3 linked regions of the Homo sapiens genome follow. The protein of the gene in region 2 interacts with the protein of the main gene of each other region in a pairwise test. Each region holds a gene or a part of one and is shown on either strand. Other genes may lie near its edges.

Region 1 (3,830 bases), on a different chromosome or scaffold from region 2:
TAACAATTAATGCAAAAATCTGTGATGAGGACCAGGCACTGTGGCTCAGGCCTGTAATCCCAGCAGTTTGGGAGGCCGAGGCAGGCAAATTGCTTGAGCCCAGGAGTTTGAGACTAGCCTGGGCAACACGGCGAAACCTTATCTCTACACACAAAAAAAATACAAAAATTAGCCAGGTGTGGTGGCCTGTGCCTGCAGTCCCAGCTACTCAGGGGGCTGACACGGGAGGATGGCTTGAACCCAGGAAGCAAATGTTGCAGAGAGCTGAAATCGCACTGCTGCACTCCAACCTGGGCCACAGAGAGAGACTCTGTCTCAAGACAAAACAAAAAAACCAGAAAAACAAAAAACCAACCAAACAAACAAAAAAAAACTATGATGAACAAATTATCAAAATTTTAAATAAAGGAAGGATCTAGCACTGTAGTTGCATGACAGTACCTCATTCTCCTTACCCCAATTTCAATAAAATTTTATTTATAAAAACAGACCACAGCTGGGTGTGGTGGCTCACTCCTATAATCCCAGCAACTCAGGAGGCTGAGATGGGAGGATTGCTTGGGTGACAGATCCCCCACTCAACAAAAACAACAACAACAACAAAAACAGGCCATCATCACAGGTAATAAAAGAAAAAATACATAACTTGGACTATATCAAAATTTAAAACTTCTGTATATCAAAAGATGCAATGAACAGAGTAAAAAGACAACTCATAGAATGGAAGGAAATATTTGCAAATCACATCTGATAAGGGGTTAATATCCAGAGTGTATAAAGAACTCCTACAACCCAATAACCAAAAAAAAAGAAAGAAAGAAAGAAAAAGCCACTCAGATTTTAAAATGGGTAAAGGACTTAAAGAGATATTTCTCCAAAGAAGATATACAAGTGGCCACTAAGCACATGAAAGGATGCACAACATCACTAATCATTAGGGAAAAGCAAATCGAAACTACAATGAAGTATCACCTCACACCCATTAGGATGGCTATGTAAAAAACCCCAGAAAATAACAAGTGTTGGTGAGGATGTGGAGAAACTGGAACCCCCATGTACTGTTGGTGTGCACCTGTATCTATAAAATGGAATATTATTTAGCCTTAAAAAGGAAGGAAATTCTAATATATGCTGCGATATGGATGAACCTTGAAGACCTTATGCTAAGTGAAATAAGTCAGTGACAAAAATGCAAATACTGTATGATTCTACTTACATGAGATACCTAGAGTAGTCAAAATCATAGAGACATAAAATAGTAGAATGGTGGTTGCCAAGGGCTGGGGAAAGGGGGAAAAGGGGAGTTGCTTAACTGGTATAGAGACTTAGCTTGGCAAGATGAGAAGAATTCTAGAGATCTATTGCACAACAATGTGAACATACTTAACACAACTGAACTCTATACTTAAAAAGTGGTTTGGACGGTAAATTTCATATTTCCGTGTATTTTACCACATCTTTATAAAAGGGAGGCACGGACTAGTTTCCAGGTTTCATTCACATAAACATTGCAATAAAACATTTACCTTGATGCCCAGGAGGTAAATATCCCCCTCCACACCAGCACAAAGGCAGGCAAGGACCCCCAGTGGCTTTTTCCTCATGATTGGGTGGGGCAAGGGAGAGAAAAAGATGCCTCGAAACGAACTTGGAGATCTCGTGGCTCCTGGAGCAGGCCACTTACCTTGTGGGCACATCAGGGTATTGAGTGTGTCGGAAAACACTTTCCAGCTCCTCCACCTGCAACAGCGTGAACTTCGTGCGCCGAGTTCGTGGCTGCATGTTCTCGGGCTGCGGACCCTCCATGGCCGCCTGGGCCGGCTCCTCCGGCGGGGGCTGCGGCTGCTGCCGAGGCTCCTGGTTTCCACCGCCGCCCTCGGGGATCATGCCGCCATCGCGGTTCATGCCGTTCTCGTGGTTCACACCGCCCTCAGGGTTCATATTACCCATGAGGCCTGGAGCTCCTTGGCCAACATGGCCTTCTGCGCTTGATGCTGCCCCCAGCTGAGGTGTGGGGCTTATTTTTACCTGGTATACACTCAGGCAGTAGAACACGGTGTCGTGGACGAGCGAACGCGCCATGGCTGGAGCGCTGCGCCCCTGCACAAACTCCGTGGCGTCTGCAGCTGGAGTGGGGGTTAGAGGGTGGAGCTAGTTCCTGTTCTCATGCTTGGTATTGGTTACAGTTGCAATGAGTGGGACTTGCTTATGCGCACAAGCAAGAGAGGGAATGGAGAGGAGTGGGGGGATGGGAAGTTGGGGGGTGCGGGTGGGGAGTGGGGGTGTTGCAGGTGGGAGTGGGGGGTTGTGAGTGTGGGGTGGGGTGCAGGTGGGGATGGGGGTGTGGGTGGAGGGTGGGGGGTGCACAGTGAGGGTGGGGGTTGCGGGTGAGGGTAGGGGTTGTGGGTTGGGGTGGGGGTTGCCGGTGGGGGTACATGGTGGGGGTGGGGGTAGCGGGTGGAGATGGGAGGTGTGGGTGGAGGGTGCGTGGTGGGGGTAGGGGTTGTGGGTGGGGGTGAGGGGTGTGGTATGGGTCGTGGGTGGGGGTGGCAGTTGAGGGTGGAGTGGGGTGGCCAAAACACAGGGGCAGTGTGGAGAAGAAAAGGGCCAATAGGAGGCATATATGTATGCAACATGGGGCCCCAGCTTGCAGCTTTGCTGACTACACCCTACTCGGGCCTAGTTATTACCCTGAGGAAAGCTGATTTGGGGGCTCAGAGGGGAGGTGAGATCTCACGGTGACCATAGGACGCCTTGAGTAAAAGTTTGGAGAATATCTCATGGCCTGACCCTCCATATTTGGCAGCATGCACAGGGCGCGGGCTATTAATTAAGCAGAAATGATTGACTGGGGGCTGCTTGTTCAGAGTTCCAGCAAAGGCACTGAAAGCAGAGCTGCCATGCTCTCTTCAGTGCTGGGATCGGGATCTTGGAGATGGGCATGCAGAGCATTCTGGGTGGTAAGATGTGCTCTGCAAGAAATCTAACGCACCCTTTGAGAAAGTCAACACAGAATAAACACGAGGCTGAATCTGTTAGCCTGAGACTGAATATCTTTGGCTATGCAAGAGAAACCTGTACTCATGGCAAAATGGAGTGCTATAAGGACAAGCAAAAAATAAATAAATAAATAAAATCGGGGATGGTATAGGAAGAGCACCAGTAAGGGCATACCTGCCAAAAATCTCCAATCTTGGGATGGAGATTTGGGATTTAAGGATATGCAGCTTACTGGATGTGGGGCCACTTCTGCTCCACAGAGCCTTGTAACTACACAGCCTTCCTACCACTGACCCCAATAAGCCCAATTACGAAGAAAAACCCTGAAGAGCCTGGTGCAGTGGCTCCTGCACTAGTCCCAGCTACTCAGGAGGCTGAGATGGGAGGATCACTTGAACCCAGGAGTTTGAGGCTGTGGTGAGCTAGAATCACATGGCAGCACTCCAGCCTGGGCAACAGACAGAGGCCCCTTTTCTTTAAAATAAATAATAAAATAAGAAATAAAATGAAAATGAAAGAAAGGAAAGCGCTAAGAGAGTCTGTCATGAGGAAGGGCATGGAGATGTCTTTTGAGGGTGGACAACTCATGAATCCTTAATTTTTCTAGAGATTGTGTGTGTGCTCTTAAGTGATGTTATATACTTTATTTTGTTTTTTAAAAATATTTTTAAAAATTTTATTTTTAAATGTTCTTTTAAAAACTTTCTGTATCTATTTATATCTATTGGTTATTTGAGGTTTTTTTGGCAGCATATATAAATATGCAGACCCTTTGAGTCTGTAGCCTACCAAGAGAGATAGCTCTCGTCTTCATGGTGATTCTGAGCATG
Region 2 (3,500 bases):
CTGCACGCCCAGTGGCAGGCTGGGAATCCAAGATCAAGTCCCTGAGCGAAGGCATGAAGTGTGGTCAAGTAGAATCAGGGTCATTTGCTGCTGAAAACTAGTGTTTCTCCCCTCTTCTGCGTGTTAAGGAAGAATGGCTGATTTGGTGACCTGATACATGTATGGTGTGAGTGTGTGTAGTGTCTGTCTGTCTACATCTGTCTGTTACATATATATAGTCATGTGCTTATGGGACATATTGGTGGTTCCCTAAGATTGGAACACTGTATTTTTACCGTACCTTTTCTGTGTTCAGATACGTTTAGGTGCACACTTACACCTGTGCTATGGCTACCTGTAGTGTTCAGTGCAATAGCATGCTGTACAGGTGTGTAGCCTAGGAACAATACACTATACGGTATAGCCAAGGTGTATGGTAGGCCACACCATCTAGGTGTGTCCAGTACACTCTATGGTGTTTGCATGATGACAACATCACCTAATGACACATTTCTCAAAACATATCCATCATCAAGCAGCAAGTGGCTGTATATAAGAAATGCATATGAAATTTCAAGTAGGTTTTTCTAATTTTATGGAATACTATGCAGCCATAAAACAGAATAAGTTCATGTCCTTTGCGGGAACATAGATGAAGCTGGAAGCCATCATCCTCAGCAAACTAACACAGGAACAGAAAACCAAACACCGCATGTTCTCACTCATAAATGGGAGTTGAACAATGAGAACACATGGACACAGGGAGGGGAACATCACACACCGGGGCCTGACAGGGGTGGTGGTAGGGGACAAGTGGAGGGAGAGCATTAGGACAAATACCTAATGCATGTAGGGCTTAAAGCCTAAATGATGGGTTGATAGGTGCATGGCACCATGCACCATGGCACATATATACCTATGTAACAAACCTGCACATTCTGTACACGAATCCCAGAACTTAAAGTTTAAAAAAAAAAAAAAAGAAAGGCATGCTGTCCTTCCAACTTTTCTTTCTTTGCCCTTCTCCAAGGCTCCTCTGTAGGCCAGCTTAAAACTAATTTACGTTCTTAAAATTTCCGTAGTCGGGGAGAAGACCATTTTCCCCTTCATCCTTGGGAACAGTGACCCCACAAAGGCAGCATCTATGAAACCCTGGGCATGCCGCGTCTCTTTAAAGTCCTGCTCACCCGCCCTGGGTGGAGGGCTCCCTGAGGCCAGCAGGGACCTCCCAGGAACCCGCGCCCACTGGCAGCCAGGCTGTTTTCCCAACACTGCCTCAGTTGCCAGCAGGGGTTTTTAAAGCATTAAAAATAAAGGGGAATATGTGTTTGAGTTATTTAGAGGTAAAATTTAAATTTTCTACTCAAAGCAGGAACAAGGGAAGGCTGTGGGCTGGATAGAGATGGGAAAATATGTAAGTAGGTCAGTGAAGCAGTCACTTACTAAGTAATATCCTGGCAGCCTGCGAGAGTCCATGAGGCGTTCAAAGGGGCCTGACTGAGAGCTTGAAAGGAGTCTCAGCCCTGGGAGGGCAGAGCCAGTGGTGCCTGGAAGCGAGCTGAGCTCTGGGAATTGTGCTGTTAACGGCAGGGGATGGCCTGGGCTTCATCTTCGAAATGGGGAACACCTGAGTGACTGCTGATCTGACTTGGCCATCAGGGGCCACGCCATCCTGCACCCCTCCCCCAGGTGCGACAAGGACGCAGCCGCACCCCTGCCCGTGCGCGGTACCTGACCACCGAGTGTGTGCACACGATGAACTCGGGCTTGGAGTTCCACTGATGGTAGGTGATGTAGTAGTGAGTCTGCAGCCAGATCCACTGCTGACCTTTGGTCAGAAACCGGTAGCAACACGACTTCCCTTTGCCAAACTGCATCACTGTCGGTAGAAAATGGATTCCGCATATAACCAATGTTAATATGAAAATGATCTTTTCCCCAAGAGTTATTGTAAAGATAAGCTTTCAAAAAAAAAGACAATACCAAACATGGCTTGTTTCCCCGGTTGCCCTGTATTTTAAGTGACTGTCAGGATCACGGTACACTGTCGTGAATTCTTAAACAGTGGAAGAGTGATCCATATACTTTCCCAAATGCTCAGACGCTTAAAGAGATCCTCAGATAAGGGCAGATGCAGACAGATTTTCAAACTGCAGGTTTAATGAAACAGAGGCTCAGGTTTGCCTGGTGCTCATCCTCCCGCCGCAGGCAGAGCTGTCTTTGGAGCTGCAGGAGCCCAGGAGAGAGCATCCAGAATTGGCCCGAAAACAGACCTGCCAGCCAGCAACCTCTGGACGGATTCTGTGGCTGCCAGTCAGCAGTTCATGCCCAGTCGACACAGTTCTCAAATAAAGAGTCGGGGACAGATGCCTCCACCCCAGGCTTCCCCCTTCCCCAGAGCTGCTTGCAGCCCCCCCATAGTGATGTCTGCTGGTGGCTTTTCTAGGGGTGTCCAGAGCAGAATGGATGCTGATGGTGTATCAAGCCTGGGCAGGGCAGAAAGATGGACTACGGATCCAAGGAAGAAGAATGATTTGGGTTTTATTGCCATAGTGCCTGGAACTTAGCACCTCTTTAGGTAAATGGTTAAGAGAAATCTCAACTAGGAAACTAACGCTACAAAAGGACACTGATGGCTGGGCACAGGGGCTCATGCCTGTAATCCCAGCACTTTGGGAGGCTGAGGCAGGCGGATCATGAGGTCAGGAGATCGAGACCATCCTGGCGAATACGGTGAGACCCCATCTCTACTAAAAATACAAAAAATTAGCCGGGTGTGGTGGCGGGCGTCTGTTGTCCCAGCTACTCACGAGGCTGAGGCAGGAGAATGGCGTGAACCCGGGAGGCGGAGCTTGCAGCGAGCCGAGACTGGGTGACAGAGTGAGACTCTGTCTCAAAAAAAAAAAAAAAAAAAAAAAAAAAGGACACTGACTTGGAGAATGTGATTATCTGAAGAGGAGATAAGCCCAGCAGATTGAGGGTGTGGGCTCCACAGGGCAAGGAGGTCTTGCCCAAGCCATGGAGAAGCCTTTCAATTGCTGAATGTAATTCTTCACTTCGGGATCTTGTTAAAATAGACACTCTGAGTAGGCCTGATTCTACAAGTGTAGCAAACTTCCCGTGATGCCTATGCAGTGTGGTCCTAGACCACGCTTTGAGGAGCAAGGAGTTACAGTTTTAATGATTAGCTTTAAATTCTAACAGCCGATCCAGATGGAACTCAAGCCTATTCTTCCTTCCCTCTCCACAGAAGAGAAAGTTCTAGCCAGGCACAGTGGCTTATGCCTGTAATCCAAGCATTTTGGGAGGCCGAGGTGAGCAGATCATTTGAAGTCAGGAGTTTGAGACCATCCTGACCAACATGGTGAAACCCTGTCTGTACTAAAAATACAAAAAATTAGCTGGGCGTGGTGGCACACACGCCTGTAATCCCAACTACTCTAGAGGCTGAGGTGGGAGAATTGCTTGAACCCAGAAGGTGAAGCTTGCAGTGAGCCGAGATTGCGCCACTGCACTCCAGC
Region 3 (3,830 bases), on a different chromosome or scaffold from region 2:
CCTACACTGACATCTACCCCTCCACTTCCTGCACTAATTCATCTTACCTGGCTCACCTGTTTCCTTTTCTCATTCTTACCCTGGCTAACATACTAGATAATTTACCTATAATTATTATTTGTTTCCTGCCCCCCACCCTGCACCACTGTGAGCTCTATGAAGGCAAGGATAGTATTTTGTTTTTTTCTGGTTCTGAGAAGGTGCTCAACCAATTGTGGAAGGAAATAATGAATGTCTCAAAGGAGAGAAAGAAAGCTGAAAAGGTCCTGTATTCTCTCGCTTCCTCCTAGTCGTCCCAGATTAAGATACCCCCCACCTTTGCACAATCTACATCTCAGCACTATATACAAAATCTCCATGAGGTATAAATGTTCACCGGTTTATTCATCCGCAGAATGGTTTTACACGTACATTTATAAATCCATATGCCTGTTGATGTTTTGCATGTGAGATCCTTTATTTACCCGAGAGCTTTCATCAGGAGGAATTTAGCTCAATATTTGTGAGATCATAATAGGATAAAAGCTGATGAAGATGAGCTCCATCCTATAGAGGCTATTTCCTCTATGAGTGGAGACTGTTTTTCCCTTCCCTGAAGGAAAGAACAGCAGTTGTTTAAATAATGAATAAAGCTAAGCACTTAAATTTATCTTCAGGAAGGTACTGGAAGAAGAGGAGGAGCAGAGTATAAAAACTACAAGTATACCTTTGCGGGGGGAACAGCCAGTTCAAAATCTTCCCAATCAGCAGTTATACTTTAATTTTAATTTCAAGTTTTCTTAGGATTATGAAATTAAAACATTCTGTTCTTGGTTATTTTCATAAGCCTTACCATCTTGAAAGACTCCATCCTCTGCCCATCCCTCAAAAGATCAACAGACGGAAATTTTTCTTTAGAAAGCAAACTATGTTCTTTTCTTTGAAATAACTGTGATAGAGAAATTATTCACTTTAAGTAGTCATGCTTCTAAGTTGCTTGAAGGTGATTACATATGAACCTTCATATAAACATGTATCTCTCTCATTTAAAAGAAAAGAGGAAGGAAAGGAATTAGCCCATTAATTATTTAAAATACTTGGTGCAACTGTTCCTATGAATTAATCCAGGCACTTGGAAGACAATTACACTCCATGTTAATAACATTGCCAACCTTTTCCACTATGCTGCACTCCAAATACTATTGTGTTTTCATTGACAACATTCCCTATTACATATGCATATGAAAAACAGGCATTTTCATCAGAATTACTGTAATAGCATTAAGAGATTATTATTTTTTCCCATTTCCTTGGAAGAAAATTTACTTAAATTAGATTATTTATTACTCGACTGCTCTCGTATCTTGCCTGTATGTTTAGGTAACTGGAGCCCATGAAAGTATAAACTTCAGAATAAAAAGCTTGATTTTATACATTAATGATTTCAAATAAAAGATAAGTGCCACATTTGTGCATCACTTCTTTAGAGAAAGTTAAGTCTGTGTTCTGCTTAGGAGAGATAACACTTTTTGTCCCTGTAGGTGGCCCCCCTGGTGTAGCCATTAGTTGCTAATTACTTGCAAACAAATAAACAATTAACTCCTTAAGCTGCTGGCTGGGCAAGTGTTCATTGACATGCTAAAACTTTCTAAGACAGGATTTTAATTAGTGACGTTCTAAATCCAGCCCCCTTGTCAGCGGAGCTATAAGGTGAACTGCAGGAAGATCCCAGCCCTATACACGTGGGGCAGAGCCAGCAGAGGCCAGAGCTGTTGCTCTGTGCAGACCACGAGAGGATGTCTCCCAGCCTTCAGGAAGGCGCTCAGCTCGGGGAAAACAAACCCTCAACTTGCTCCTTTTCAATTGAGAGAATCTTAGGACTGGACCAGAAGAAAGACTGTGTTCCATTAATGAAACCCCACAGGCCCTGGGCAGACACCTGCAGCTCATCAGGTATGCCACAGCTTAATTGTTTCAATTCTTTGTTATTTCATTTACAGTGTTTAATTTGCCCTTTATTTCATACTACATAGAGCTAGAGTTTAGGACTTTAATTTAATTTATTATTATTATTTATTATTTTTTTTTTTTTTCTGAGACAGAGTGTTGGTCTTGTTGCCAAGACTGGAGTGCAATGGCATAATCTTGGCTCACTGCAGCCTCCGCCTCCTGGGTTCAAACGATTCTCCTGCCTCAGCCTGCCAAGTAGCTGGGATTACAGGCATGCACCACCATGGCCTGCTAATTTTTGTATTTTTTAGTAGAGGGGGGTTTCACCCTGTTGGTCAGGCTAGTCTCGAACTCCTGACCTCAGGTGATCCGCCTGCCTCAGCCTCCCAAAGTGTTAGGATTACAGGCATGACCCACCACGCCCAGCCAGAGTCTAGGACTTTTAATGCCTCCAACTGAGTCCTATGGGAAATTAAAAGAATATCAGCTTTGGATTGAGCAAAGTGGATAAATTCACTCACAGGAAATCCCAAGAACCTGCATTTACTTCAGAAGATCTCTCCCTGTTTGACACATCAGATATTTGAAATCTCTTTTCACTGAAAAATAAACGACATTCAGAGACCAAAGAGGCAGGATTACCAAGACAGGATCTTCATTTTTTATTGGTTTTTGGTTAACGGGGTGCAATTCTCTTGTGAACCCCAGAATTCCACTAGGAAATGAAAGATGAGTTCCTGAAACTACCTCTATAGAACTTTGTGGAACATAAGATTGACCATCTAAGACAGGGCTTATTTTTTTGTTTTTAGGGAAAGATGGTAACTTATGTCTACATGTCCCAAATCCTCCCAGTGGGATTTCATTCCCTAGCGTGGTGGATCACCCAATGCCAGAAGAAAGAGCTTCGAAATATGAAAATTACTTTTCAGCCTCAGAAAGACTGTCTTTGAAAAGAGAGTTGAGTTGGTATAGAGGCCGAAGACCAAGAACTGCTTTTACTCAAAACCAGGTGGGAAGTTTTTTCACCCAATAATGATAATATAAAGGCTTTAATTGACACCAAGTTGAGCAAAAGCCCACTCACTTTGGTATCTCAGTTTAGAAGCCTTATTAATGAAACAGTAGACTACCATATTTTAACAATTTCCAGGTAATCATTTTTAAAAAGGCATCCAGATTAATTGCCAAGATTTAAATGTAGTCATTTTACTCTAGAAATTAAAGCTCATTTTTGGAGACATACTGAATATCAACATTTTTTTTTCTTAGATTGAAGTGTTAGAAAATGTCTTTAGAGTAAACTGCTATCCTGGTATCGATATTAGAGAAGACTTAGCTCAAAAATTGAATCTAGAGGAAGACAGAATCCAGGTAATTTTCAAATTTAGTTGTTATTCATGATGTTGAAATGTTAAGAATAATAAAATAATGTTTCTGAGACCTATTTTATTTTTCCTTAACTTTAGATTTGGTTTCAAAATCGGCGTGCAAAACTGAAAAGGTCCCATAGAGAATCACAGTTTCTAATGGCGAAAAAAAATTTCAACACAAATCTGCTGGAATAGATAGAAAACTAAACAAGTGAAATTATCTTCTAATTGCAGAGCATGAAGAATCAGTGGAAATATTAAGTGTTAAAATGTGATGTTTTCTTTCCTGCATTTAATCTGAATATTGTCATTTTTTCTGAAAATATATTGTAAATACTATTATAGCATGGTACATATTTGGGCACTTTTAGTTATAGTAAAGACCTTTTATATATATTTTAATAAACATTTTCAGAAAAGATTGCTATTTTTTAAGTAAGCCAAATTAATCTAATAAATTAGTTTGTTAAAATCAATAGACTCATGACTAAGTGATTCCACAAGCTGGATTCTAATTATAAAGTATTT

What was found.
Region 1: the proteins of NPAS2 (region 2) and RHOXF1 interact in a two-hybrid assay, tested with the Homo sapiens proteins (one large-scale study listed by BioGRID and IntAct).
Region 3: the proteins of NPAS2 (region 2) and HESX1 interact in a two-hybrid assay, tested with the Homo sapiens proteins (one large-scale study listed by BioGRID and IntAct).

Annotation. Positions count from the first base shown.
Region 1 is NC_000023.11:120,113,781-120,117,610, forward strand, and holds the start of RHOXF1 (rhox homeobox family member 1), read right to left. Parts: upstream 2,134-3,830; 5' UTR 2,127-2,133; coding exon of another isoform or gene 2,083-2,126; coding exon 1,685-2,082; intron 1-1,684. UniProt on the Homo sapiens protein: Transcription factor maybe involved in reproductive processes. Modulates expression of target genes encoding proteins involved in processes relevant to spermatogenesis.
Region 2 is NC_000002.12:100,966,639-100,970,138, reverse strand, and holds part of NPAS2 (neuronal PAS domain-containing protein 2), read right to left. Parts: intron 1,859-3,500; coding exon 1,711-1,858; intron 1-1,710. UniProt on the Homo sapiens protein: Transcriptional activator which forms a core component of the circadian clock.
Region 3 is NC_000003.12:57,197,864-57,201,693, reverse strand, and holds the start of HESX1 (homeobox expressed in ES cells 1), read left to right. Parts: upstream 1-1,715; 5' UTR 1,716-1,775; coding exon 1,776-1,932; intron 1,933-2,741; coding exon 2,742-2,941; intron 2,942-3,201; coding exon 3,202-3,303; intron 3,304-3,398; coding exon 3,399-3,497; 3' UTR 3,498-3,830.